Homo sapiens: one gene and its partners. The protein of the gene in region 3 interacts with the protein of the main gene of each other region in a pairwise test. Each region holds a gene or a part of one and is shown on either strand. Other genes may lie near its edges.

Evidence for each region.
Region 1: the proteins of JMJD7 (region 3) and GCM2 interact in binary tests that used the Homo sapiens proteins (3 or more experiments, as listed by UniProt).
Region 2: the proteins of JMJD7 (region 3) and OXER1 interact in binary tests that used the Homo sapiens proteins (3 or more experiments, as listed by UniProt).
Region 4: the proteins of JMJD7 (region 3) and POGZ interact in binary tests that used the Homo sapiens proteins (3 or more experiments, as listed by UniProt).

Annotation. Positions count from the first base shown.
Region 1 is NC_000006.12:10,879,042-10,886,452, reverse strand, and holds the start of GCM2 (chorion-specific transcription factor GCMb), read left to right. Parts: upstream 1-4,411; 5' UTR 4,412-4,659; coding exon 4,660-4,749; intron 4,750-7,411. UniProt on the Homo sapiens protein: Transcription factor that binds specific sequences on gene promoters and activate their transcription. Through the regulation of gene transcription, may play a role in parathyroid gland development.
Region 2 is NC_000002.12:42,761,980-42,768,342, forward strand, and holds OXER1 (oxoeicosanoid receptor 1), read right to left. Parts: upstream 2,157-6,363; 5' UTR 2,084-2,156; coding exon 929-2,083; 3' UTR 520-928; downstream 1-519. Other genes in the region: HAAO (3-hydroxyanthranilate 3,4-dioxygenase), read right to left, coding at 5,458-5,536, 5,616-5,698, 5,881-5,949. UniProt on the Homo sapiens protein: Receptor for eicosanoids and polyunsaturated fatty acids such as 5-oxo-6E,8Z,11Z,14Z-eicosatetraenoic acid (5-OXO-ETE), 5(S)-hydroperoxy-6E,8Z,11Z,14Z-eicosatetraenoic acid (5(S)-HPETE) and arachidonic acid.
Region 3 is NC_000015.10:41,831,073-41,838,087, reverse strand, and holds the end of JMJD7 (bifunctional peptidase and (3S)-lysyl hydroxylase JMJD7), read right to left. Parts: intron 3,349-7,015; coding exon 3,195-3,348; intron 3,119-3,194; coding exon 2,865-3,118; intron 2,501-2,864; coding exon 2,444-2,500; intron 1,941-2,443; coding exon 1,845-1,940; intron 1,614-1,844; coding exon 1,537-1,613; intron 1,308-1,536; coding exon 1,148-1,307; intron 1,021-1,147; coding exon 932-1,020; 3' UTR 507-931; downstream 1-506. Other genes in the region: JMJD7-PLA2G4B protein, read right to left, coding at 1,537-1,613, 1,845-1,940, 2,444-2,500, 2,865-3,118, 3,195-3,348. UniProt on the Homo sapiens protein: Bifunctional enzyme that acts both as an endopeptidase and 2-oxoglutarate-dependent monooxygenase.
Region 4 is NC_000001.11:151,421,474-151,428,498, reverse strand, and holds part of POGZ (pogo transposable element with ZNF domain), read left to right. Parts: intron 1-85; coding exon 86-376; intron 377-457; coding exon 458-676; intron 677-3,437; coding exon 3,438-3,544; intron 3,545-4,212; coding exon 4,213-4,550; intron 4,551-4,947; coding exon 4,948-5,102; intron 5,103-7,025. UniProt on the Homo sapiens protein: Plays a role in mitotic cell cycle progression and is involved in kinetochore assembly and mitotic sister chromatid cohesion.

The DNA of each region.
Region 1 (7,411 bases), on a different chromosome or scaffold from region 3:
GACAGAGTGAGACTCCGTCTCAAAAAAAAAACAGCCAGAGGAGCAGTTTTTGGTCCATTGATGTGTGCAGACAGAAGCCGAACCCTTTCCTATGGTAACCAGACTTGTACCCGATATTATTAATACATTCCTGATTTCACACACACACAAAGTGTGTTTGGTGGTTGTTTTTTAAGTACCGTGGTGGGGAGGAAGGGGAATTTTTTTTTTTAATCAAAGCAAATAGTTTTGTTTTTGTTTTTGTTTTTTTGTTTCTTTGTTTGCCTATTTCCTTTAACCTGACAAGTATGCGTACCAATGGCTAGGCTGATTCGGATAGGTGGCCAGTTGTGTGAACACGGTGGCAAAATTAAATTGGACTAGAGTTTTCCACAAAAAACAAAAAAAAGACCCCTCCAATCCAAACATCCTTTGTGTAAAAATCAACTTGTATTATAACTAGACCTGTGAGTATTTCAAGTCATAATATGTACGGAAGATATTTGTCTACACCAAAGCAAAACATAACAAAACCAGAACCCCTGTTAGCCCAGGACTTGCACACATTTCTAGTCCGTTCAAAACAATGTTTATGTCAAAGCCTGTCATATCAATTTCCTGGAAAGTATAATGTAAACATTCTTACATTAATTTACCTATTTTAATCTAAACCAAGGAAATTCAAACGCAAGTTTTTTTCCTTTTCAATGAATGGACTTTTGTAATATTAAACTAGTAATCAAGACAGGAACAGCTGTGAGTATAAGCTATTGTGAGTCAATACAAATATAATACCAGGGCAAGAAAGAAACAATGAATAATAAGAAGCAATAAACAAAATACTACAGTTTAAATGAATTTTAAGAGAATATTTAAAAATTAGAGTTTTCATAATATTAGATAGAAAACTTAATCATCTATTATTTTCAGGCTTTGGGGGAAAACATGTCCTTCCAAAGTCTATGGTGCAATGCATTCAAATCTTTAAGAGAAATTAAAAATAACAGAATAGGCAAAATACCTTTTATCTGGTTTTTTTTTTACTTTGATTAGCTTCTTTTACTAACATGTTTTGTCTTAATATAATTTATGGCAACTTGAAATGCATACTCTAATTCTTCTCAAACTAAATATAGTAGAGGCTCTATGACATTTCTTTGGATACCAGAATCCCTTTAGAAATTAATTGATTTGCCTTTTACATAAAAAAGTTTTATTTATTTATGTTTTTGACGGGTCAGGTCTCTCTAGGAACATTCCAAAAGCACAGAGACAAGAACTATTCTAGCACTGCAATAAGACCAAAAATTAATTTCTATGCATTTTCAGAGGTAACTTTAAATCACCATTTTAAAGTTATTTTTAGAACATTTGAAAGGATAAGTTATCTTAGACTACAACATTTAATGAAATACTATAATTAAAATGGATAATCAATAAATTTTCATTCAATTTTGGAAGACAAAACAACACGAAAAGCAACTGAATCAACAGGAGTTTCGGGGACCTTTGGCAGACAGTTAATAAGATGAAAAATCTGTGAATGAAACTCGTGGGTGAAGAGTAGACAGATCTCTTCGTTCCCAGCTAGACCTCAGTGGCGACCATTTGAGAGTGATTTTAATCAGAAACCTTGACTGACAGGACCTTTTAGGAGGGGAGAACTTCGGGAGAAAGGAGGCTGGGAATGAACAAATCACTTTCTTCTGCTAGGACCCTTCGGCTTTGACTGGGAGGAGGACCCCAGCTAGAAGATAAAGGAGGAAAAAATCGCGAGGAACTGCTCGAAGTTGGCCTTTCTTCCCAACAGAGTTCGCTGGTCCGCTGCCACTGGCAGGCTTCTCTGACCGACTGGGATACTTTTTCTTTCTTCTTTCCTTTTCTTTTTTTTTTCTTTTTCTTTTCTTTCTCCTTCCTTGCTTCCTTCCTCTCTCTCTCTCTCTTTCTTTCTGTCTTTCTTTCCTTCCTTTTTTTTTTTTTTTTTTTTGAGACAGGGTCTCGTTCTGTCGCCCAGGCTCGGCGCTATCTCAGGTTACTGCAACCACTGCCTCCTGGATTCAAGCGATCCTCCCGCCTCAGCCTCCCAAGTAGCTGGGACTACAGGCACACGCCACCATGCCCGGCTTTTTTTTTTTTTTTTTTTTTCGAAGAGACAGGGTTTCGCCATGTTGCCCAGTCTGGTCTTGCACTCCTGGGCTCAAGCGATCCTCCCGTCTCGGCCTCCCAAAGTGCTGGGATTACAGGCATGAGCCACTGCGCCCAATCGCGGGATGGACTTTTCTAAGCAAGCCTCACTGTGCCTTTGGCGCGGGAAGTAAAAGGACAGGGAGCGTGGACCACCCTTAGCTTCCTGATGTGGTTTCGCTCTTCCTTTATCCGCCTTTTGCCAACCGAAGGCACTAATCCTGCAAGAGGCGTTGGCATGGGCGCCCTCCTGGCCGAGTCCCGGGCAGCACCCGTCCGTGCGCTCAGCACGGGCTTTGCGGTGCCAAGGCCTAGGGTGCGTCGCTTCCCGGGTCTGGAGGGTCATGGATTCGGTTCATCCTCCTCTATCAAGGGATCTGCCGTGAGGAGTTGGCTCCTCTTCTCTGGCTGGGGCTGGGAATGGAAGCGTGCAGCTGCAAAACAAGGACGCGGGCAATAAATTCCAGAAGCCCTTTCCCCTGGCCGCCAAGAATCCGGCCTTGGGGTAGTCAAAGAGTGACTTTAGTCACTTCAATCGGTTTTGTTTTGTTTTGTTTGTTTTTTGTTTTTTGTTTTTTTTATATATATATATACTGAGGGTCTCCATGTGCCGGAGTAGCCCTGGGCGAGTCGGCTGCTCAGATGATGAAGGTTTCGTCCCAGCCCCGGAGAACCCACATTGTCCTGCGCACCTCCGCACCACCGCGATTCTCTAGTCCTCCAAAGCCTCCCAAGACTGTAATGGAGTAAATTCAATTTCGTCGTGATATTTCCAAGACTATATCAGTGAAGTTTTTTTTTAAGAGTTGTGGGCCGGGCGCGGTGGCTCACGCCTTTAATCCCAGCACTTTGAGAGGCCGAGACAGGAGGATCACGAAGTCAAAAAATCGAGACCATCCTGGCCAACTTGGTAAAACCCTGTCTCTACTAACAATACAAAATTAGCTGGTCGCGATGGCGCGCCTGTAGTTCCAGCTACTCGGGAGGCTGAGGCAGGAGAATCGTTTGAACCTGGGAGGCGGAGGTTGCAGTGAGCCGAGATTGCGCCACTGCACTCCAGCCGGGAAGACAGAGTGAGACTCCGTCTCAAAAAAAAAAAAAAAAAAAAAGATTTGTGTTCGGGTGGGTGGCAACTGAGAGCTCGCCGAACCACAACCTCTTATTTAACAGATAAACAGATAAGGAAGCTGAGACCCAGAGGGAGCCAAAGCAGTGGAGAAAGCGAGTTCTTTGGGACTTTTCCCCTCTCCCCTTTCCCTCCTTCCCCAGGCTCCCACCTACCCCAGGCTCCCACCTACCCCGGGCTCATTTCCGCCCCCCACCTCCTCCAGGTTCACTTTGTAGGACTCCGTTCCTGCAGGGCCAGGTCCCTCCGAAGTCCCCGGGAGCGTGAAGGCGCCTGGGCTCGCGAGCATACGCGGAGGCTTGGCGCACCCTGGCACGTCCCAAACAGCAGAGCCAAGACTGCGAGACACTCACAATAGTTAGGGGAAGAGCCGGCAGTGGAGGCCCAAAATGGGCTGACCCCTAACTAGGAGGCGTGGGCGCGGTTATTCAGGCTAGGGCGCACGCGGACGGCAGAGGGGCCCACGCACGGTTCCCATGCTCTCCTGGAATTGAGTGTTGGCTCTCAGGGGACTTTGCTGGAAAGCCTCCATCTAAGCCCCTTTCCGAAATCAGGGAAGCTGGACGCGTTTAGAAAAAAGAAAAAAAATAGGCCGGTCGCGGTTGCTCACGCCTGTAATCCCAGCACTTTGGGAGGCCCAGGCGGGCAGATCGTCAGGAGTTCAAGACCAGCTTGGTCAGGGTTTCGCATGGCTAAAACCTGTCTCTACTAAAAATACAAAAATTAGCCAGGGTGGTGGCACGGACCTGTATTCCCAGCTACTCGGGAGGTTGAGGCAGGAGAATCGCTTGAACCTGGGAGGCAGAGGTTGCAGTTAGCTGAGATGGCGCCACTGCACTCTAGCCTGGGCAACAGAGTGAGACAAAAAAGAAGAAAAGAAAAGAAGAAAATAATAAGGTTTTAAACTTAAAGGATACATTCCTACTTACCCTCTCCACCCCCACCCTCTGGCTGCAGTTTCCATTTGCTTCCAGGGCTGAGTTTAACCTCCACCTCCGTTCCTGGGACTGTGGTGGAGGGGGCGACCGGCCCCTGGAGCGTGGGCGCTAGCGAGGTAGGCGAGACAGGGCGGAGCCCCCCGGAGGTATATCTTTATAAAGGAGGGGGCAGCTGCCAGAGGTCGATGCTGCCGTTCGGGTGGAGAACGTTCAGCACCGCGGCCAAGGACAAGGCCCCGCCCGGGTCCATAACCATTGTCCCCAGCTTCCAGATATCTAAACAGCCTCTCTCTCTTTCTCTCTCTCTGCACCTCCCCTTCACACACCCCACTTTCTTCTTTAAAGAGAAGAAAAAAAACCCACCTGGCGCACCTGTCCTTTTTTCTTCTATTTTTCAGAACCCTGGGCGGAAAGCGCGAGCGAGTTGGGCAGATGCCGGCGGCCGCGGTGCAGGAAGCGGTCGGCGTGTGCTCCTACGGGATGCAGCTCAGCTGGGACATCAACGATCCGCAGATGCCTCAGGTAAGTGAACCGGGTGTGTGCGGGCACGCGGGGCGCTGTCCATCCGAAGGAGGGAGAATGGCATTCGAGTTCTTGAAGAGTCTGCGGACGGACCATACACACACACACACACACACACACACACACACACACACACACACACACACACATACCCGCAAAATTTCTGGGTTTCTGAGGCCCTCTCAAGTGTAGAAAGAAAACTGGACTCTACAAAAGGCTGAGTTGGGTTTAGAAATGTGTCTTCTTGGCCGGGCGCTGTGGTTCATACCTGTAATCCCAGCACTTTGGGAGGCTGAGGCGGGTGGATCATCTGAGGTCGGGAGTTCAAGACCAGCCTGACCAACATGGAGAAACCCCGTCTCTACCAAAAATACAAAATCAGCCCAGCGTGGTGGCGCATGCCTAAAGTCGCAGCTACTCGGGAGGCTGAGGCAGGAGAATCGCTTGAACCCGAGAGGCAGAGGTTGCGGTGAGCCAAGATCACGCCATTGAACTCCAGCCTGGGCAACAAGAGCAAAACTCCATCTCAAAAAAAGAAGAAGAAGAAGAAGAAGAAATGTGTCTTCTCCCAGCAATTTCCTTGTGCTTGCCTGAAATCACAAGCAAAGCAGCAGGAAATGTTGGTCAGGCTCCACATTCCCAGTCTTGGGGAGAGCGGGACGCCTGTCCTTTCACTTCCCTTTAACCAAGGTAGAAATTAGGTGCCTCTCTCCTTATTCATTTACTTTAAATCCATGAGGAAGCTAAGGAGAAAATCTAAGCAGATGTAAATACCACTGCTTCTCATGCAGCAAAACTGAGGTACAACTGTAAAGTGAATCTAATGACCTAAATTTAAAACAAGTAGCCCGACTTGAGCAATTTGCTCAGACCTCCCTAACTGCTCAGAGGAAGGAGGCCCCATAGTCATGCCAACAAGGCCACCTGTACCCAAAACTTACTTCTTCTCTAATGACAAGCAAATCATCATTCTTTTAGGGTGAATTTGTTGTATTTTGCTTTATTTCAATAAAGCAAAAATGGTTTGGAGCCAAGTCCAAAGAATGACTGGGGTGGATGAAGTGGTGAATGAAGTGGGTGGTTTGAAGCCAGTTCCAGAGAATGACCAATTATCATTAGTCACACTGGTTAGGGCCAAAATTGAGTGATGTTGAAGTCCTGGCTGTAGGGGGTGGGGGGTGTAGAATGAGAGTTGCTTCCCTGCCATTTGCAGATGTGGGCTTCCAGCAATGTTGTGGCACAGGGATAAAAGAGATGGGTCATTTTGTCCGCAACTAAAATGTGTCTGATAGGTGTTCAGATGAATAACAATTCATTGCAACATTGTGTCGCCTCTCATAGAGGTCAGCACTTTTTTGGATCCATATATTTGTAGTAGGTTAGGTGTGTTTTACTCCTTTGTTTTTGTTTGTTTGTTGGGGTTTTTTGTTGTTGTTTGTTTGTTTTTTGAGGCGGGGTTTAGCTCTTGTTGCCTAGGCTGGGGTGCAATCACACGATCTCAGCTCACTGCAACCTCCATCCCCCAGGCTCCAGCGATTCTCTTGCCTCAGCTTCCCGAGTAGCTGGGACTACAAGCATGCGCCACCACGCCCAGCTAATTTTGTATTTTTAGTAGAGATTGGGTTTCTCCATGTTGGTCAGGCTGGTCTCGAACTCCTGACCTCAGCTGATCCACCCGCCTTAGCCTCGCAAAGTGCTGGGATTACAGGCGTGAGCCACCGTGCCTGGCCCACTCCTTTGTTTTAAAGTCTGCCTACTTTAGAGTCACATGGTACCATTTTCATGAAAGTGGACCACAGTACAGCAAGTGCATCTCATTCTGTTTCTGTCCATGTACATCTTCACAGGAAACAATCATATCTTGCATTTTAGAAAAGTCACATCCAAGTAATGTAATTATGGTTCATCTCTCAAGCATTTGCTAGACTTCCCATGTCAATATGAACTTTTTTTTAGGAGACTGGTTGTTAAGCAGGAAGCATGTGTGTAATATCTCAAACGGGCCAGGCACACTGGGACATGGAGAAGTGAAGAAACTTAGCATCGCCCTGCTCTGGGTAACCGAGTGAGCAAGTTAAACTACCTGTCTGACCTTGAGAGAGTCCTTGAATTTGCCTTAGTCTCAGGCTACTTACTCACTTGTCATCAAGTGGTAGAGTGAGATAACCATCTCAAACTCTCCTCCAGGTCTACGATCAGGTTCAGTGTCTATGTGTGTGTATGTACACACACACACAACATGCCAACACTTGAGAGCAAGTGAAACCCAATCCTTGACATCCTCTATTCTTGTACTGATTTTAAAAATACAATCTCTGTGGCTTCATTGCCAGGGTCACTACCTCAGTAGCTCGTGTGAGGCATGGGGGCCTAGTCTACATCCTTAAGGGAGAGCTAAAGAAATGCTGTTTTCTGGAAAATTGTCAATTTGTTACTAAGATCCTTAAGTTAAAATATTCACTTTTAAAACAAAGATATTAGCATTTAATATAAGCTTGGAGTTGATAGCACATCATTATATATTTCATTTGTGACTTACCTTACATTGATGTATCATGTCAATTGTAATATTTCAGAGAAAAGATAAATAATACCTATGGTAGTAATAATGATTTCAACAATATCTTTGTAATTTTGGAAACAAAATCACCCATTAACCTTA
Region 2 (6,363 bases), on a different chromosome or scaffold from region 3:
GCTGGAGATACACGGTGGAGGCGGGGTCTGGTACTCACCCGCTCATCCTTCCCGGGCCCACCTCCCTCTGCCTGATACTTTTTCTCTCGCTCCCTCCCCAGCATCCACATGGACCCTTGATGCCACCCTCCTGGTCTGTGTGTGACACTTCTGGGCTTTCACTTCTATTCCTGACGACTTTAGTAGCTGGGGTGCGTCCTGTCCATGATATGAGAGGGCTGGGCTAAGTGGATTGAGGGAACTGGGGAGGGATGTTAGGTCCCCAGCATCAAACTCTGTACCCGAGGGCCTGGAGCCCTGGTGGCCTGCCTGAGGCCTCACCCAAGAAAGCAGTTCTGCCTTTCAGGACATGCCGGGGCTTCCCAGAAGTTCTGGGAAGGACAGTGCCCCCTGGGATGGGGCTGTGGGATGGCTTCCCCACTCTCTCCCAAGTTTCCCTTCACCTTGGGGCGCTCACTTTGACGCCTACTGACAGTCCCAGGTTAGAATTAAAGACAGATATTTGGTCTTGCAAATAAATATATTTAAAAGGGAAGTTTATTAATATTGGAAGGGACAAACTGGAGAGCACAGAACATGCAGCTGTCCAATTTCTAAGGTGACTCTGCTGTGACAGTGATTGGCGTCTGTCCCCTGCAGCTGCGCAGGCCCCTGTCTGAGCTGGTGTGCCAACGGCACCTTGCCTGTCTCCTCCACCCGGCATCCTGCTCTCCCCTGCATTCTGGGAATGCCATCCTGGACACACTGAGAGGCCTAGGTGGGTTTCTCTCCCTGCCACCCACCTGAGTCCTGCCAGTGCTTTGGCCTGGCCCCTGGTCTGCCGCCATCCCTTGTCCAGTTGGTTGAGGCACCGTGTGCTGGCCTTGTCCCTCCAGGCCAGAGCGCGGCAGCCCTTACCCCCACAGCGCTGCAGCCCTGCAGCTGGCCCTCAGCCCTGGGAGGAGCCTTCCTTTTCCAGAGAGACCTCGCCCTGCACTTTCAGCTTCCCTATGGCCTCCGCCTTCCTAGAGGCCTCCCGGTAGCGCCACTGCCTGGAGGGTTGGTAGGAGCTCTCGTCGCTCACTGGGCCCTGCCGGCCCCGCGTGAGGCCCAGCAAGGCCCGGCTCTGGTGGAGGAAGTTGGGGCTAGAGAAGCAGTAGAGCACGGGGTCCAGGACACTGTTGAGGTAGGTGAAGGCCAGGGAGCCATGGAAGAGCTGTGTGCAGAGGTCCAGGGATCGGCAGGCGGACAGCCAGAAAGCCACCATGGAAGCCATGCCAAAGATGATGCTGGGCAAGAAGCAGATGGTGTAGACGGCCACCACCATGGCCAGCACACGCATGGCCCTCTGCGGGCCTGCCTGCCCGCCCAGACCACGGTTCCGGATGGTGAGCCCAATGCTCACAATAGCAAAGAGGATGAGCGCCAGTGGCAGGAAGAACTCCAGCAGGTACAGTGCCTGGTGCCAGCGGAGCGAGGCCGAGGGCTTCGTGCCCACCCTGTAGCTGAGGCAGGAGGGGCCGGAGAAGGTGCTCAGGAGCAGGTGCCCGTTGAGGAGCAGGATGCCCACCCAGAGTCCCCCGGCCACCCGGGCAGCTGCCCCCACGGAAGCACGGCTCAGCACGTGGTGGGGCTGCACCACCTTCAGGTAGCGGTTGAGTGCGATGGCTGTGAGGAAGACAACGCTGGCCGTGCGGTTGGTGGACAGCATGAAGAGGTTGACTTTGCAGGCAGCAGCCCCAAAGCGCCAGGTCTCATGGAGGAGGTAGTAGTCCACGCGGAGGGGCAGGTTGCTGATCAGGAGGAAGTCAGCGGCCACCAGGCTGACCAGGAACACCGTGTTGGAGGTCCAGGGCCGCGTGTGGATGCAGAAGATGAAGAGGGCCAAACTGTTCCCCACCAGGCCCAGGACAAACTCCAGGGCCAGGATTGGTGCCAGGAAGGCAGACACCAGCGAGGAAGAGGTGGGGTGGCAGGGCCCTCCAGAGGACCCCCCCACAGTGGTAAAGGCAGAGGGAGCAGAGGAGGGTGAGGGAGAGAAGGAGGGAGGGAGAACAGAGGAGGAGAGAGAGGGAGATGGAGAGCTCAGGTTATGAAGTTCCATGGGCTGCTTGGGCCATGGGCCTGAGAGAAGGTTCTGGAGTCTTCTACCCCTGCAGGAGTGCTCAGGGCAAAGTGGGATGATTGGCACTATCAGCTGGCCACCACGGTGACACAACATCCTGGGGTTTTCATCAGCATTCTCGCAGCCACTGAGAAACACCCTGTGTTCCTGTTTGCAGGCCAAGGGGAACCCTGCAGCCCTCCCTCCTTCCCTCCGCCTCGGGGTACTGAGTGATCCCACCACATGAGGTCTCTGAGCCCAGCCTGGGGGTTGTGCTGCTGGTAGAGGAGGAAGCAGGGCTCAGCAGGGGCAAGATGGAAGCCCAGAGAAACCCTGAAGTGGGAGGATAGTCCAGCCGGGTGAGGTGGGGGCTCTCAGGATCATGCAGCCCTCCCTGGACACCCCCTCCTCCACTACATATAGAGGCTGGTGGCTGCCTCCCTGCCCCCACCAGCTCTGGCTTCAGGGACTGTGGAGCCAAAAGGACATTGTCCTGAGAGGTAGGCAGGGAGTCAGTGAAGACCTCCACCGCCCTGCTGGTGGCCTGGAGGGAACCAGTCCTATTTGTGCTCCGCCAGCCTGCTGTGTGTCTGAAAGCCCACTGTAGTTCAGCTTTCAGTTGCTCCCAGGTTCCTGATGGTTCCGAAGTCTGTGATGGTCCCAAGTCCGGGTACACGGTGAAGTAGGCCCCATGGACGGGGACGCCCCTGCCAAATTTCTACTGCCATGGCACGGGGAGCTGGGGGCTTCTCCCGCAAATAGAACAATCCTGATTTTTCCCTGTCTGTGTCTCCCCATGGCTCCTTGTCCACTCCACTCCTTGCCCCCATTAGCATTCACTGCGGAATAGGGAGTGGGAGGCTGGGGCTAGCTCCAGACAAGGTACAAGTCCAGCTGTCCCATGGTGAGGTATTCTCATGAGCCCATGGGCTGGTCCTGTGGGTGGAGATGAGGGCTTCAGGCTCCTGATAACCCGGGACAGCAGGGCCAAGGGAGGTGCTGGTTCCAGGCTCCAGGGCCTGACCCCATCACTGCCAACTGGCTGGGGTCAGCAGTCTGCCATGTGTGGCCTGGCCTCTGTGTCCCAGGCACAGTGGCCCCTGGCCTCTCTTGGCTGCCCTGGGCTCCCATTTGGTCAAGGCTGAGGGCAAACATCCCTGGGAGAAGCAGGGTGGTGAGGCCCAGCCTAAGCTCCATATGCAGACAGGCCTGGGTTGGAAACAGAGCTGCCCTATTTCCAAACCTCTCTGAGCCTGATCTGTAAAATCAGGCACTACCACCTTCTTGGAGAGTTGTGAGGATAAAATGAGATAATTTATGTAAAAACTTATAGGCCAGGCACAGTGGCTTAAGCCTGTAATCCCAGCACTTTGGGAGGCCGAGGCGGGCAGATCACGAGGTCAGGAGATCGAGACCATCCTGGCTAACACGGTGAAACCCCGTCTCTACTAAAAATACAAAAAAAGTAGCCGGGCGTGGTGGCAGGTGCCTGTAGTCCCAGCTACTCGGGAGGCTGAGGCAGGAGAATGGCGTGAACCTGGGAGGCGGAGCTTGCAGTGAGCTGAGATCGCGCCACTGCACTCCAGCCTGGGCAACAGAGTGAGACTCCGTCTCAAAAAAAAAAAAAAAAAAAAAAACAAACTTCTAGGGGATTCCTTGGGACAGAGCGAGTGTTCACAAAAACAGATCTAATTTTCATGACTTTCTCTCTGGATTAAGCTTGCCCTGCATATGAGAGTAAACTCTTCTCTTCACGGCCATCGGTATTCTGACCTGGGTCCTCCCTGGAACATTCTATGTCTTCTTCTCAGGTCCTGCACGGAGCAGTGCATTGCTACAGGCCAGGAACGAGCCGCGTGGAGCCTCTGCCTGTGCCTATCCTGGACCATTTGTGTTTGAAGGAGCCTGATGGTGTTTTTTCTTTGCTTGCAGGAGAGGAAAGCCCTTAGGGGTGACGAGGAGGTTGAAGGTCCCGATGTCTCTTAGGGCCAGTAGCCTTTTCAGCAAAGGCAGGTCTTTCTCTGCTCCCAGTGGAGTGTAGGAAGGCAGTGAGCCACTGGGCTGGGGATGAGGGAGACAGGGGTCAAGTGTTCTTTTCTAGAGGAAGCTTTGAGTCCACGCAGGGACCTGTTCTGTCCAGATCTGTCACTCTCATGTGCATGCCCTCATTGACTTCTCACGGAAGTCCCAGGAAACTGAGCTGCGCCCGCTGCAGGTTCCACATTCTTGTCTCTTCCCACTGGTGCCTCTGAGGCCTCCAGCATCCCTAGACACCCATAGCAGGCTCAGGGGTCCCTCTGGAGTCTTTGAACAGGGCACCTGTGCATGACAGGGGAGGGAAGGGGACACAAGGCCAGACACCCCCACCAACACTGCTGAGCTCCTGGTACAACTTCATGCCCCTCTCCAGGCTGATCATAGTCTTTAGGTATTAACAGTGGTTAGCTCTGGGTGGGGGATTTTGTGTATTTCTGGGTTTTCTATAGTTAGCACAGATGACTTCTGTTATTGGAAAAAAACTCAACAGATGCTAGTGTTTTAAAGTTATGTAAAAAGACAGACTGGGCAACATGGTGAAATCCCCATCTCTACAAAAAAGAAAAAAAAAATTAACAGGGTGTGGTGGTGCATGCCTGTAGTCCCAGCTACTCAGAAGGCTGAGGTGGGAGAATCACTTGAGCCAGGAGGGTCAAGGCTGCAGTGAGCTCTGATCACACCACTGCACTCCAGCCTTGGTGACAGTGAGATCCTGTTTCAAAAAAAAAAAAAAAGTAAAAAGAATAAATGAGAACAGAGAAGGAAGTGGAGAGATGACATTAGCCGTGCTCCCAGGACCAGGCATGGAGCATGCGTGGATCAAGTCACACACACAGTGAAGAATGCCCATCCACAAACAGGGATGCCCAATAACAGACCCTCCAACACGTCCATGGTCACCTGGTGCCCTGATGCCCCAGACACACCACATGGTCCTGGGGGGCACATGGGAAGGCCAGTGATGACTGCCTGCGGCAGACCCCCAGGTGTGCGTTCCTCAGGAAGCCTTTATTGAGGGCCTTCTTGGTGTGGAAGTGCTGCACTGAGTCTGCAGGGACAGAGGAATGGGCAGGAGCGGGGCCGGGGGTAGACCACCTGGCAAGACTGGCAAGGCAGTGGGCTGAGTCTGCCAGAGAAGATGGGGAGCTGCTGCCCGCCCAGGGGCATGGCATCTGGGCTGAGAAGGGCAGGAGGGTGGGTGACAACAATGTGCAGGTCTGTGGGGGACACAGCGGCAGTACACAGAGAGGTAGTGGGGGCTGGGAGAGTTGTTTGGCAGGGATGGCACTCGAGGGTGCTTGGCACACCTGTGGCTGCTTCAGGCCATGGCAAGAGGGTCACCCCAGGGGCTTCTTGCAGGCAGGGTCCTGGGTCACAGACAGGGCCACAGAGCCTTGTGTTCGCTCCCAGGCATACCTGTGGACACACAGATGAGCAGGGATCACACAGAGTTGGACCCTGAGGATCCCAGGGAAAGCCCTCCCTGCGTACTCACGAGGTCCCAGCTAGCACCAGGAGGCTGTCATCAGGGGCCAGGCTCAGGCGCCGTCCCCCCATTGTCACCACCGAGGAGCCCTCCTGGAGAAGAGGAGCAGGAGAATCAAATGGAGACTGTTGGGCCTCATCACCTGGGTGAATGTCTGAGTCTGCCTGGGCCCCAAGGCCCCAAGAGTGGGCCCCGTGTGGGAGCCCAGGGCCGAGGAGCGGGCTGATGCCCTCTGGCAGGGGGTTCTGCAACCCTGTCCCTGGGCCCCACTTGCCAGCTGCCACAGCCACACGTCCACATTCTGTCTCAGGCCTTCGCTGCTGCCTTGCCCATAGGCGATCACCTGGTGGGAGGTGAAACAGAAACTTCTGGTGCTTCTTGCCCCACATGGGAGATGGTCTTGAACCTGGCCCCCAGACACCAGGCCTGCTTGGAGCAGGGTTGGGGCCCATGAAACAGCCCCATCACCATGTGCTGAGCAGAGACCAGGACTTGGAGAGGAGGGCTGCCTGGGCTGCAGGCCTCCCTGTGCCCGCCGCTGCAACAGGTATTTGGGATCACACATGCCTGCCTTTCACGTGCAGTGCACCCGTGGTCCCTCTGATGTGTGCTCATGCGAAGGCATGCTCACCAGGGCACATGAGGGACGCATTTCCATCAGCTTCCCAGAGGGTGCCACCTCCCTTTCTCTGAGAGAGGTTATGAGTCTGGCCTCAGGAGGAGGAGGGGACAAGGAAGGTGAGGCTGAGGGCTCTCT
Region 3 (7,015 bases):
GCTTGCTTGTCCCAGGGAGGGGCTGCGGTGACTCTCATGGACAGCGGGACTTGGGCAGCTGACGGCTCTTTGGGCCCAGGCTGGGATCCAGCCCTCACCCCCAGTGAAGGTCACCCTGAAGTTTTTACCTGAACCTTCAGGCCCTCCTTAGACCACAGAAGGCAACTTCAAGAGGGAGGATCAGAACATACGACTCATAAGCCAGGCGCAGCAGCTCACACCTGTAATCCCAGCACTTTTGGGAGGCCGAGGCAGGTGGATCACGAGGTCAGGAGATCAAGACCATACTGGCTAACACGGTGAAACCCCGTCTCTACTAAAAATACAAAAAAATTAGCCGGGCATGGTGGCACGCACCTGTAGTCCCAGCTACTTGGGAGGCTGAGGCAGAATAGTGTGAACCTGGGAGGCGGAGCTTGCAGTGAGCTGACATCACACCACTGCACTCCAGCCTGGGTGACAGAGCGAGACCCCATCTTAAAAAAAAAAAAAAAAGGACATACGACTCACAGCTACCTTTTATTCAACATGTCCTGTGTGCCAGCTCCATGCTGGTCCTCATAGACATCATCTCCAAGCCCACAACAGCCCCGCGAGGTACAGCCATTATTATCTCTTTACTGACAGGACACCAATGCCCGAGACGCAGTGACTCGCCCAACATCACAGCGCTGGGGAGAGGTGCCGCTGCACCTGATCCCCACTCTGCTCACCTGTGTGGCAACTTCCTGAGAACCCTCACCCAGACCTGCCTGGCACCTTGAGTCCTTATGACCACATTCCAAGATCCTCCAAAGCTGATCTCAAGCCATGCTGGACCCGGGGCCAGCAGCCAGCATGCACACTCCAGGCTCTCTCGAGAATTGACCTGGCCAGGGAGGGGCTGGCTCCGTCCCCCGAGGCGTGCTTGGTGGTGTTCACCAGTGCTCCATCAGTCAAGGCCTGAAGCCTTGGTGAGGGAGTCGAGCAGCTGGAAGTAACTATACTTGAGGTCGTATTCCATGTCATACCAGAAATTCACTGTGGGAAGAACGGGGATCTGAGCATGAAGATCCCTCTTCTGACCTAGAGCCTCCCAAGCCTCCCCCCAGAGGCCCTGCTGGACCTTGACAGGGCCTCTCCCCAGGCGGCCTGGGCAACTCTTCACCTGCGATGCAGCCCTGGGACTGCTGGACGTGGTGGAACCACAGAGCCGGCAGATAGAGCATCTCACCGGCCCGCACCGTGCAGCGAAGGGCCTGGGCCTGACTGTAACTAGGGTACCGTGCTAGGTCTGGCGCCAAGGGGTCCAGTGGGATCCAGGGCACCTGGGAACACATCAGATGCCAGGGAGCAGCCCCCCAGACCCCCCAGGACTTCAGGCTCTGTCCCTTCCAAAGGTCAACACCACAGGCCCTGCTTGGCTCAGCAGTGAAAGGCCTCAGACTTAGAGACTTTTCAGAGCAAGGTGCCACCTCCCCAGATCTTTTGTGCCTGTTCTTCAGAGCCAGGCTTCTGCCCTTCTCCCTCCCTAGAGCCCAAGAACAGGACAGACACCTTCTCCATGGCCTCTTCATCCACCACCTTAAAGGTGCCCTCTTCAGTTAGCTGGTAGGTTGCCGGCGTGTACAGCTCTGGAGCCCAAGGGAGAAGGGTGTGGGGGAATTGCAAACAGCCTGGAACTTGCCAGACCCTCCTCCACCCCAGCCAGCCCTGGGCAGGGGCAAGGGGATCAGGGGCCCTGGTGCACTGGGGATGCCACAGCCACACCTCAGGCCTGGGAACTGGCCTCCCAGGCTCTTGCTGCCTCCCTCCCCCTTGGGCCAGCTGTTCCCCAGCCCCTCCCTGCAGGCCACATCCCCTACCATAGGGGATGAAGGGCCGGTCGCTGGGCGGATGGAACAGGAAATGCTTCTCTCCTGAGACCACGCAGTAGAGGTTCTCATAGTGGTCCTTGTGCACTGCCAACAGAAAGAAGGCCCGGGGGCAGGGTATGGAGGGCAGGGGCACGGGAGGAGGCAAACCATCATGCTGAGAGCCCTGCACCCCAAGACGTCCTATGACAAAAGAGAAGCACGCACAGAGCCAGTGGGCTGGAGATGCCAGGGGCTCTGATGGGCATTCTGGAACTCTGCCTACCAGGGACCTGATGCTCACCAGGCCCTGGACTCCTCTTCAACAAGAGGGGAAGTTCTCCTACACTTACCCCCTGGCCCAGCGGGCCTTCAGGGAGGTTTCTTTGGGTCTAGAAGAAACAATGCACCCGCCCCCAATGCCATGGGTCCATTCCCCGACCTCAGCTGTCAGGGGAAACCCTCTGTGGTGCCCGAGTCCTAGAAGCCAAAAGAAATCTTAGAGAACAGCCCAACCTCCACCCAGGGCCATCCCTCCACTCCTGGCCTCGTCTTCCCTCCCTCTGCCCCAACCTGCTCCTTCCCCACCTTTGTATTCCCCTTACACCTACAAGAAGTCACTGCAGCCGCCTCCCCCAGCCAGAAGTTCACAGCATCGGGCATCTTTCCTGCAGGGCAGAAGGCAGAGAGCAAGTTAGGAAGGCCAGGCTGGGGAAAGCTGCCATCCAGTGATGCCAGAGCCAAAACCTGGGTGAGCACAGAAGAATCCCAAGAAAGGGGTCAGGGAGAAGAGGCAGAGGTTGGGAAATCTTGGGGAAGGGGTCCTCCCTCCCTGGGGCAGAAGGAAGGACAACAATCTTTGGCAATTCATCTATGATTAAGTCAAGGCCTGGGAATGTATTTAGTGAGCTGCACCAGATGCTGACAGGACCAAGCCCATAGGCCAGGTCATCACCTAAGGGCAAACAGGCTGACCCCCCTCCTTCCCATATCTTCCCTGTCCAGGGCCACGACCACCCCACCTCCACTCACCCAGGGCTTCGGAGGCCCAGGGCACATGGGATTCCAGATCAGGCAGCAGCTGGGGCAGCTCGCTGGGCAGGTTGGAGCACTGCTTCTGCACATAGAGGACTCCAGGGTGCTGGGCCCGGCCCTCCAGCACATCCAGCACGAAGCTCAGGGGCAGGCGGCGCTCAGCTGGCATCATGAAGCGATCCCCTCTCACGGCATCCGCGTAACCATCTGGGGTCACGGCCACACTCACCTCTGTGGAGCCCACTGTGGCTCTAGAGGAATGGACACTCAGCCCATGCCCAGATGCCAGTAATCACTGCTCACACCTGACCCCAGGGCAGCTCCCACCTGAAATAGGGGAGGGACCACTTCTGGAGGGCCGGCCAGTGCTGCAGAGCGTTGCGGATAATGCACGGCCTGTTGGGGCAGACCCAGTCCCGGTAGAAGTGGAGCGGAGTTGGGGGTTTGTCCAGGTAGGGCACAGCAAGAGGCACGCAGAGCTCTGAGAGAAAGAAGAAGACAGGGGATGGAAGGGCTGATGTCTGCAGCACCCAGTCCCTGCCCAAGAGATGCCCTCCCTGGAAAGGCCGCGCTGTGTCACTGGGAAATGCTCGTTGGTGACCAAAGGACCCTGGACAACCAGTAATAGAAAGATGAGGACGGAAAAATGAAAGCAGAAAGCATCACGCACACACACCAGCATGGGCCCTGACCGTCCACAGGGCCAGAGGCTGCTACCCAGCCCATAAGCCAAATCCCCTGTGGGGCTGTGTCTGCACAGTGGACCCTATGCCTTCCCACCCTGGAGAGGCCAGCCTCCTAGCATCTACCAGGAAAGGCCACCATGGAAGTGGCATTGGGAGCTCCAGAATGAGTAAGGCTGAGGCCCCATGGCCACGGGCTATTCTGGGTGTTGTGTGGCTCTGGGAAGCCCCCTTTAACAGTGACATTTACTGAGCACCAGGAATGTGCTCAGCACTTGGCTTGGCTAATCTGGGGCTATCAGGGATGACACAATCATCATCTTAAGAAATTTACAACCTTCTTACCCGGGAAGACAAACTACCAGATGACACCAATGGAGGAAAAGGAAGGGCTCGGCTATGGTTTGGGTCCTGCTGAACAGCATCACCATCTCCAGACACCCAGGGCCACCACGTACACTTCGGCAGGCTGCGTGGTGTGCCGCCTGCGCAGGGGTCTACAGTGGCCCTGTGTCACCTCTAATCAAAATCTTTTTGACTCAGCTTTCTCCTTCACTCCCGTCATCCTACTGATTGGCTCTGAGTCCTGTTGATTCTGTCTCCTATGTCTCTCAAACCCACCGTCTCCTCTCCTCCACTGGCATCCACATTCCAGCTACCTCCTTTGGGTCCTCACTCAAATATCACATTGATAAGACTTCCTTCTCTGACTATACTTTCTAAATTTATAATCTGTCCCCCTGCTGCAAATCTTTATATCCCTTTCCGTATTTTTTCTCGTTAGCATTCATCACCATCTGACATGCTATATATTTTAGGGCTAGACGTGGTGGCTCATGTCTGTAATCCCAGCACTTTGGGAGGCAGAGGCAGGAGGATTGCTGAGGCCGGGAGGTCAAGACCAGCCTTGGCAACGTAGGGAGACCCCATCTCTACAAAAAAATTAAAAATTAACTGGACATGGTGGCATGCACCTATACTCCTAGCTACGCTAGAGGCTGAAGCCAGAGGATCACTTGAGTCCAAGAGGTAGAGGCTGCAATGAGCTATCATCGTGCCACTGCACTCCAGCCTGGGTGACAGAGCAAGACTTTATCTCAAAAAAAAAAAAAAAAAAAAAAAATATATATATATATATATATATGTATTTCACCTACATAAACTGTTTATCATTCTTTCACCCTTGCTAGAATGTGAACTCCACAAGGGCAGAGACAGTTGTCTGTTCACTGATGCACCCCTGGGACCTAGAACAGTACCTAGCACATAGCATGTGCTCAGCAAGTATTTGCCTAATGTTGAATAAAAGTCTCCAGTATCCTGGCTGGATGGTTGCAGTAGTGAACTAGCTGGTTTCTCTGGCTTAATTCCACTCCCACCCAAAGCATTCATCATCATAGCCCCAGTCATCTTCTGAAAATACAATCTCATATTGTCACACCCCTAGTAACAAATGCCTTGATGGCTTACCACTGCTCCTTAGAGAATGCTGCCTGCCTTGGCACGCATGACCAGGCCCAACCTACTCTTCCAGTCTGATTTCCTGTCTCGTGCCTGCCCTTGCCACACACCCTCTATTCAGGTGGTACCTTTGTTCCAGCTGCTCACTCAGACTGGAGTGTCTTTCTACTGGTTTTTATAAAGTGTACAGGGCTTCGCTTTGCTACATTCATGCTCTAGGTCGAGCCAGAAGGCCGTGGTTCCCATTTGGTGGTTACCACATGCTGCTCCAAATGGTCCCAGCACTGATGTTCACCTCTGAGGTTACGCTGCACCTCTCACAGCAACACCATGCCAGTCACCTTTACTTTCTGATCAGTTGGAAAGTGAATGTTCTTAGATCAAATATTGTAACTGAGTGAGAAGACCCCACTGGGCCCAGGAATACTGGAAAGGAAAGAGTTGGTGTGCCTGCTTGCTTCCCTGGCTAGAGGCAAGATGGCACCCATCCAGTAGATATGGAATCCAGGAGACAGCAAAGTGGCAAAGGCCTTCCCAGTCACGCCAGCCCATCCAAGCAGTCACCTTGAGAGATGGGGTGGTCTGGGGCTCAGTACATCTTCCTGTTGTACTCGCTGAGATTAAGAGACAGAGTCTTGCTCTGTTGCCCAGGCTGAAGTGCAGTGACGCAATAATAGCTCACCGCAGCCATAAACTGTCACGGGATCTTTGGGGTGTTGCTTTACCAGCTGGAAACCTCTGTGGCCAGTGATGCCTTTGCCTGTTTTGCTCGGGCCCATTGGGCCCACTCGGCCCTGCAGGCTGTGCTCAGCTCATGCTACCGGCCTGGATCCCACACCTGCCAAGGGCGAGTGGGGCAGCGAGGGGTGTGTGAGCGAATGAGTGTGGGGTTTGGCCACTGCGCACAGCTAGGCATGTGGGCTGCGGTGGGGCAGGCAGCTTCAGGTGCCAACACAGGTGCTGGTTTCCTGCAAGGCTGCAGCTAGACCAGGTGTACCATAAGCAGCTTCCACAGCTGACACTGGGAAGCATGGTGGTGCCTGGAAGCTTGCAGATACCAGGAACCGCAGAGCCCTAAAGAGGGTGTCAGAACCCCAGCTTGGGAAGCTCCTGGGTCTGGACTCCCCAAAGGGCCGCAGTTCTTCTTTCCTTCTGGACACCCACAATGTGGCGAGCAAGACGCATGGTTCAGTCCTCTTCATGTTACAGCTCTTTTAGCCCCGCCACTCAGCAGGTCCCAATTCTTGTCCTGCATCCAGGAAGAATGAGGTACACACAGACAAGCAGAGGGTAAACAAGACAAAGAGGAGCTTTACTGAGCCATAGGATAGCTCAGAGGAGACCCACAGTGGGCAGCTCCTCTCCGCAGCCAGGGTGTCCCAACGAGTGTTCAGCTCTCAGCAAAGAGGATAGCTCCTCTCTCTGCAGGCAGGTAGTCCTGTTGAGTGTTCAGCTCAGCAGAGCTTTGTTCCAGCTGCTCACTCAGACTGGAGTGTCTTTCTGCTGGTTTTTATAAAGTGTACAGGGCTTCGCTTTGCTACATTCATGCTCTAGGTCGAGCCAAAAGGCCGTGGTTTCCATTTGGTGGTTACCACATCCTGCTCCAAATGGTCCCGGCACTGATGTTCACCTCTGAGGTCACACTGCATCTCTCACAGCCACACCATGCCAGTCACCTTTACTTTCTGATCAGTTGGAAAGTGAATGTTCTTAGATCAAATATTGTAACTGAGTGAGAAGACCCCACTGGGCCCAGGAATACTGGAAAAGAAAGAGCTGGCATGCCTGCTTGCTTCCCTGGCTAGAGTAGCTCCTCTCTGTGGGCAGGTTGTCCTGTCATCTCTCCAGCTCTCAGCAGAGAGGGTAGCTCCTCCCCGCAGCTGGTCGTCCCATCGTCTCTTCTGGTCTGGCTGAGTCAGGGGCTTTTTATGGGTCTCACAGGGGAGGAGGTACATGCCTATTGGTCCATGGGCAGCCATGGGTGGGCCGGAAAAAGCACCAAAA
Region 4 (7,025 bases), on a different chromosome or scaffold from region 3:
AAATAATCTTTCCAGTAAAGGCAGGGAGAATGTGTTATAGGTGAGCTCACTGACCAAGATCTGGTACTTTGTCTCTCTTTTAAAGCCCCAGGTACCCAGTTTGTTAAGCCGACAGTTGGAGTTCCACAAGTGTTCTCCCAGATGACCCCTGTGAGGCCAGGCTCCACAATGCCTGTGAGGCCCACCACCAACACCTTCACCACCGTCATCCCGGCCACTCTTACCATTCGAAGCACCGTCCCACAGTCCCAGTCCCAGCAGACCAAGTCCACTCCCAGCACTTCTACCACTCCCACTGCCACACAGCCAACCTCACTGGGGCAACTAGCTGTTCAGTCTCCAGGCCAGTCAAACCAGACCACGAATCCCAAGCTAGGTAAGGCTTCGGAAGAGGAGATGGCAGAGCCAGGTTGGGATGGTGGGTGGAGAACAGATGATTATCACTTGGTCACCGTAGCTCCCTCCTTCCCCTCTCCACCTGCAGTGAGCATTGCCAGCTTTGTCACTGTGAAGCGACCTGGTGTTACAGGCGAAAATAGCAATGAAGTGGCCAAATTGGTGAATACCCTTAACACCATCCCTTCCCTGGGCCAGAGTCCTGGGCCAGTGGTGGTGTCCAACAACAGCTCTGCTCATGGCTCTCAAAGAACCAGCGGACCTGAGTCTTCAATGAAAGGTACAATAACCTGAAAGACTCTGAGCAGCCAGTCATTCAAAAACATTAATAAAGTGTTTGTTGTATCAGAGCTTTATACTCAGAAATAGAAAAATAAAATAAAATACAGCTGCTGTAGTTTGTTCTTACAGAAACTTTAGTAAGGAGAAAGCCACTTACAAAAAGTGTAACTGAATCAGCTCCAAGAAATTATGTGTGTAATTGTGCTTTGGAGATTAGTGAAATTGATTGATTAAAGATGGGTGAGATAATGAAAGATAACTTCATGGAAGAGATGGATTTCTGAGCAAGGTTTTAAAGTTAGGATTTGGTAGAGAGATCTTCAGGTTGAGAATGATGAGCATGAGGGTTTTCAGTGGTCTAGAGCAGGGGTCGGCAAATGTTTTCTGTAAAGGGCCTAGTAGTAAAGTTGTAGGCTTTGTGCACAATATATAGCCTCTGTTGCAGCTATTAACTGTGCTGTTGTGGTGGGGAAGCAGCCACAGATACATAAACGAATGAGCATGGCTGTGCTCCACTAAAAACTATTTATGGACTCTGAAATTTAAGTTTCATAAAATTTTCATGTGTCGAAAAGTTTTATTCTTTTATTTCAACCATTTAAAAATAAAAACCGCAAGGTATAGTGGCTCACACCTCATCCCAGCATTATGGGAGGCCAAGACGGGAGGATCACTTGAGCCTAGGAGTTTGAGACCAGCCTGGGCAACATGGTGAGATCCCATCTCTACAAAAAAAAAAAAAAAAAAGATTAGCCAGGCGTGGTGGTGTATGTCTGCAGTCCTCGCTACTCAGAAGTCTGAGGTGAGAGGATGGCTTGGGCTTGAACCCAGAAGGTTGAGCCTGCAGTGAGCCATGAGCATGCCACTGCAACAGAACGACACCCTGTCTCAAAAAAAGTAAAAACCTTTAAAACATGGTGTTGGGAAAACTAGATATCCATGTCCAAAAGAAGTTGGATCTTACCTTACAATAAATACAAAAATTAACTCAAAATGGATCAAAGACCTAAATGAACTAAAACTATAAGACTCTTAGAAAAATTATAGGACAAAAAGCTTCATGATACTGGATTTGACAGTGATTACTATTTCTTGGATATGACACCAAAAGCATACGCAAGAAAAGAAAAAATGAGTAAATTAAATTATATCAAAATTTAAAACTTTTGTGCAGGACGTTGTCAACACAGTGAAAAGGGAAGCCACAGAATGGGAGAAAATATTTGCAAATTATGTATCTAATAAGGGGTTAATATCCAGAATATATAAAGAATTTGTGCAGTTCAACAACAAAAAAACTCCCAAACAACCTTTTTAAAAAATAGACAAAGGACTCGCTGGTCGTGGTGGTTCATGCCTGTAATCCCAGCACTTTGAGAGGCCAAGGCAGGTGGATCACGAGGTCAGGAGTCCAAGACCAGCCTGACCAATAATGGTGAAACCCCGTCTATACTAAAAATACAAAAATTAGCCAGGCGTGGTGGTGTGTGCCTGTATTCCCAGCTGCTCGGGAGGCTGAGACACAAGAATTGCTTGAACCTGGAAGGCAGAGGTTGTGGTGAGTCGAGATTGTGCCACTGCACTCCAGTCTGGGCAACAGAGAAAGACCCCATCTCAAAAAAAAAAAAAAAAGTAGGAAAGTAGGCAAAGGACTGAATAGACCTTTCTCCAAAGAAAGTTATTGCCAATAAGCTCATGAAAAGGTGCTCAGTGTTATTAATCATTATGGAAATGCAAATCAAAACCACAATGAGGTACCGTCTCACTCCCATTAGGATGGCTACTATCAAAGAACCATAAAATAACAAATATTGTTGAGGATGTGGAGAAAGCAGAACCCTTACGCACTGTTGGTGGAAATGTAAAATTATGCAGCCACTTTGGAAACAGTATGGTGGTTCCTCAAAAAGTTAAAAATGATAGAATTGTTGTATGCTCCAGGAATTCCATTCTATACCCAAAAGAATTGAAAGCAGGGACTAGAACAGGTATTTGTACACCTATGTTCATTGCAACATTATTCACAATAGCTGAAAGGTGAAAGCAACACAGAGGTCCATCAACTGATAAAGGGATAAATAAAATGTGGTATTCACATACAATGGTATATTGTTCAGGCTTAAGAAAGGAAATTCTGCTACAACATGTGCTGCAACATGGTTGAACCTTGAGGACATTATGTTAAAGTGAAATAGGCTAGTCACAAAAGGACAAGTACCATATGATTCCACTTACTTGAGGTACCTAGAGTAGTCAAATTCATAGAGACAAAGTTGAATTGTGGTTGCCGGGGTGGAGGCGAGGGGAGAATGGTGAGGAGGTTTTTATTGGATATAGCTTCAGTTCTGCAAGATTAAAAAAAACAAAAACCTTAACAAAAAAATCACATACAAATTATTCTTAGCTTATGGGCCAAACAGAAACTGGTAGCTGGGCTGGATTTGATCTGTGTGCTGTGGTTTGCTGACCCCTGGCCTAGAGTTAGAACAGTAAAAGGAAGCCTCAAACATAGTGATCTTGAGCCCAGGGAGGTCAAGGCTGCAGTGAGCTGTGGTCGTGCCACTGCACTCCAGCCTGGGCAACAGACTGAGAGACCGTGTCTCAAAAAAAACAAAAACAAACAAAAACCATAGTGATCTCTCATGCTTGCTTACCCTTTTATATACTTCTCAGGGAGTGTTTGACTTTTTCCCAAAAGGTCAGTAATCTTTTTCCAGTGTCATTGTATTAATCTTATCAATTCTTCTCACTTCTTTCAGTGACCTCTTCCATCCCAGTATTTGACCTCCAGGATGGTGGACGGAAAATATGTCCACGATGTAATGCTCAATTTCGTGTTACTGAAGCTTTGAGAGGTCACATGTGTGTAAGTGATATCACCTGTGATCCAGCTTAAGTGGCTTCTGCCATTTACCTTCATTAATATTGGAAGCTTGTAAGCAGGGGCTCTAAAATGACTGAAGCTTTTTAAAGGGTTACTGTTTCTCTTGGTCTGTTTTTAGAAGAGCTGTGTACTTTGGAATGTGATGGGATACATTTAAAGACCCTCAAATAGATCAGAACATATGTGATCTTACTTTCTTAGTGTGGTAGATTTTGAAACCACACAGGAGAACAGGTTTATAGATAATAAGGACTCAAACCATATTGGCCTCAGTTCATTTTTGTTAATTGTGTCATTGGATGAATCGGGAGCTCTTACTTCCATTTTTTAGCTTTTCATTTTTTGGTATTAGTCCAGATAAAAAGGTTGGAACTTCTTCTTTGCCAGGGAGCTCAGAGCCAAGTTATACTAATGATTAAGGGACCTAAGACAGGCAGGAGGGAGAAATACAAAGTATAGCGCTTGGGTGGCATATGTGGATATACTCTAGAAAAGGAGTAAAACTTGGAAACGCTAAAAAAAACTGAAGGGTGAAAGCTGAATGAGAATACCTGAAACCAAACCGTTAACAAGGAATGGTAGTGAAGTTAAGGAGTTAGCACATTCTAGCCCCCAGGATAACCAGAATGATCAGATGTCTTTCTTTATAGTACTGTTGCCCAGAAATGGTTGAATACCAGAAGAAAGGAAAGTCCCTGGATTCAGAACCCAGTGTCCCATCAGCAGCAAAGCCCCCATCCCCTGAGAAAACAGCTCCTGTTGCTTCCACACCCTCTTCTACACCTATTCCTGCTCTGTCACCGCCTACCAAAGTACCAGAACCAAATGAGAACGTGGGCGATGCCGTCCAGACCAAACTCATTATGCTTGTAGATGACTTCTACTATGGACGGGATGGTGGCAAAGTAGCCCAGCTCACAAATTTCCCTAAGGTCGCCACATCTTTCCGATGCCCACATTGTACCAAAAGGCTAAAAAACAATATTCGGTAAGTGTTTAAGAGCCTTGGAAGTTACCTTGAACAAGAGAAGACTTACATTTTCTTATATATTTTAAGTCTTTCTCTTTGGAGAATGGACCTAACTACTATGCAGTCTTGCTGGGGTTATCATTAAATCAATAACTAGGACTATAGAAGGAGATATTGTGGTAATAAACAAAAGGTAACTGGATCGAGTAAGGGAAAGCAGTATGTCTCCTTTCCCAGAACTCTCTTAGTTTCAAGAACTCATTATCTTTCTGGGCTCAGAAAAGGATATCCCAAACAGGAAGTCTGGGGAATGGAGGGGAGCAGATAATGTTTGTTCTGTGATTTTACCATTATATTTCTAAAAGGCTACCAATTTTTTATGTTTTCTGTACTTTCTCTTTGTGCTTTATTACAGATTCATGAACCATATGAAACACCACGTAGAACTCGATCAGCAGAACGGTGAGGTAGATGGTCACACTATCTGCCAGCACTGTTACCGCCAGTTTTCCACTCCCTTCCAGCTTCAGTGCCACTTGGAAAATGTTCATAGTCCCTATGAATCTACTAGTAAGTTTGGAAACTCTTAAACTCAAGGGGAATATACCTTGCTGTTCACTCATTGAATGGCGCTGGGGGGAGCCCATTATATTTATTTACATGTGGGTAACAGTGTAGAGGAAGTACTTTTCATATTTGTAGCCAGTTCTTTACTTCATTCACCTTGTTTTTTTTTACAAGCCTGACTTTTATTTTGTTCAAGCATGGATTGAGTTCAGTGTTAGATCCTGAATTGTTAGGGGCGTTGATTCAGAACCACTGTAGAAAAACAAATGTAATTAATTTATTTCTTAGGTCTCTTTATAGAAGGAACAGTCATCTATTTGCTCTTCCACTTTAGTTAAACCCTGATAGGTTTTATGTAGGCTAAAAGATAATATTGTGAAGTACTTTATCATTAAGACATTGCTTTCAATGAAATATAAGATGAGCTGGAGTGTTTTCTACACTGTATATTTTATACATGTAGGCTGGACATAAGCTCAAAGAAATTAAGTAGGATAAAAGATAATATGGCCGGGCACGGTGGCTCACGCCTGTAATCCCAACACTTTGGGAGGCCGAAGCAGGCAGATCACCTGAAGTCAGGAATTCGAGACCAGCCCGGCCAACATGGCGAAGCCCCATCTCTACTAAAAATGCAAAAATTAGCTGGGTGTGGTGGCGGGCACCTGTAATCCCAGCTACTCGGGAGGCTGAGACAGGAGAATCGCTTGAACCCGGGAGGCGGAGGTTGCAGTGAGCTGAGATCATGCCATTGCACTCCAGTCTGGGCAACAAGAGCAAAACTCCATCTCCAAAAAAAAAAAGATAATATTATGAAGTACTTTATCATTAAGACAGTGCTTTCAGTGAAATATAAGGTAAGCTGGAATGTTTTTCTACACTGTACATTTTATAGATAGATGTAGGCTGAACATAAGCTCAAAGAAATTGAGTCATTTGCTTATGAGCGTACACCTCTAAATACACCTCTACTGGGGATACATAGTGAGGATTTAAGCCCAGTATTGAGAATACTTCTCATGTCCTTTACGGGATTTCCAGTTTTGTTGTAAAGACAAAAATTATGTAAATATAGGAAAATGTGAGAACAAGATAGTATATTATAAACATAGACATTTTAAGATATCATTGATAGGTGAAATACTTCAGAGAAGGGAAAAAATCCTTGTGGCTAGGTTTCCAAGAAAGTCGTGCTTAAATTTAAGAAAGGTTTAGATGGATGGAGAGTAGTAAGAAAAGCTTTTAGGTGATTGAAAACAGCATGATCAAAAGCATAGAAGACATATGCATATTATCTGGATGCATTTGCTACAAGTAAAAATCCTTAACTAAAAATGAATTAAACAATAAGGACTGGGTGTGGTGGCTCACACCTGTAATCCCAGCACTTTGGGAGGCTTAGGTGGGTGGATCAGTTGAGGCCAGGGGAGACCAGTCTGGCCAACATGGCAAAACCACATCTCTACTAAAAATACAAAAATTCGCTGGCTGTGGTGGTGTGCGCAGGTAATCCCAACTACTCAGGAAGCCAAGGCATGAGAATCACTTGATCCCAGGAGGTAGAGGTTGCAGTGAGCTGAGATCGCACCACTGCACTCCAGCCTGGATGACAGAGCGAGTCTCTGTCTCAAAACAAAAGAAAACAATAAGAATATCTGTTATATCATTTAACTGAGAGATACAGAAATGGATGCTTCAGCCTAGAATTTGACTGCCCTGCTGGTTTTCAACAATTCTCTTGTCTCTGGCTCATAGCAGGGTGGCTGTATAAGTGTCAGGCACTATGTCCAGATAAAAAATTGTTAGACAAAGAAGAGATCTTATCTTCCCATCTTTCTTTCTTGAATCTGTTTTCTTATGAGTGAGAATTGCTTTCCTTTTATATCTCTTTGACCATTTATTGGCAAGGGAAGTGGGATTGACATT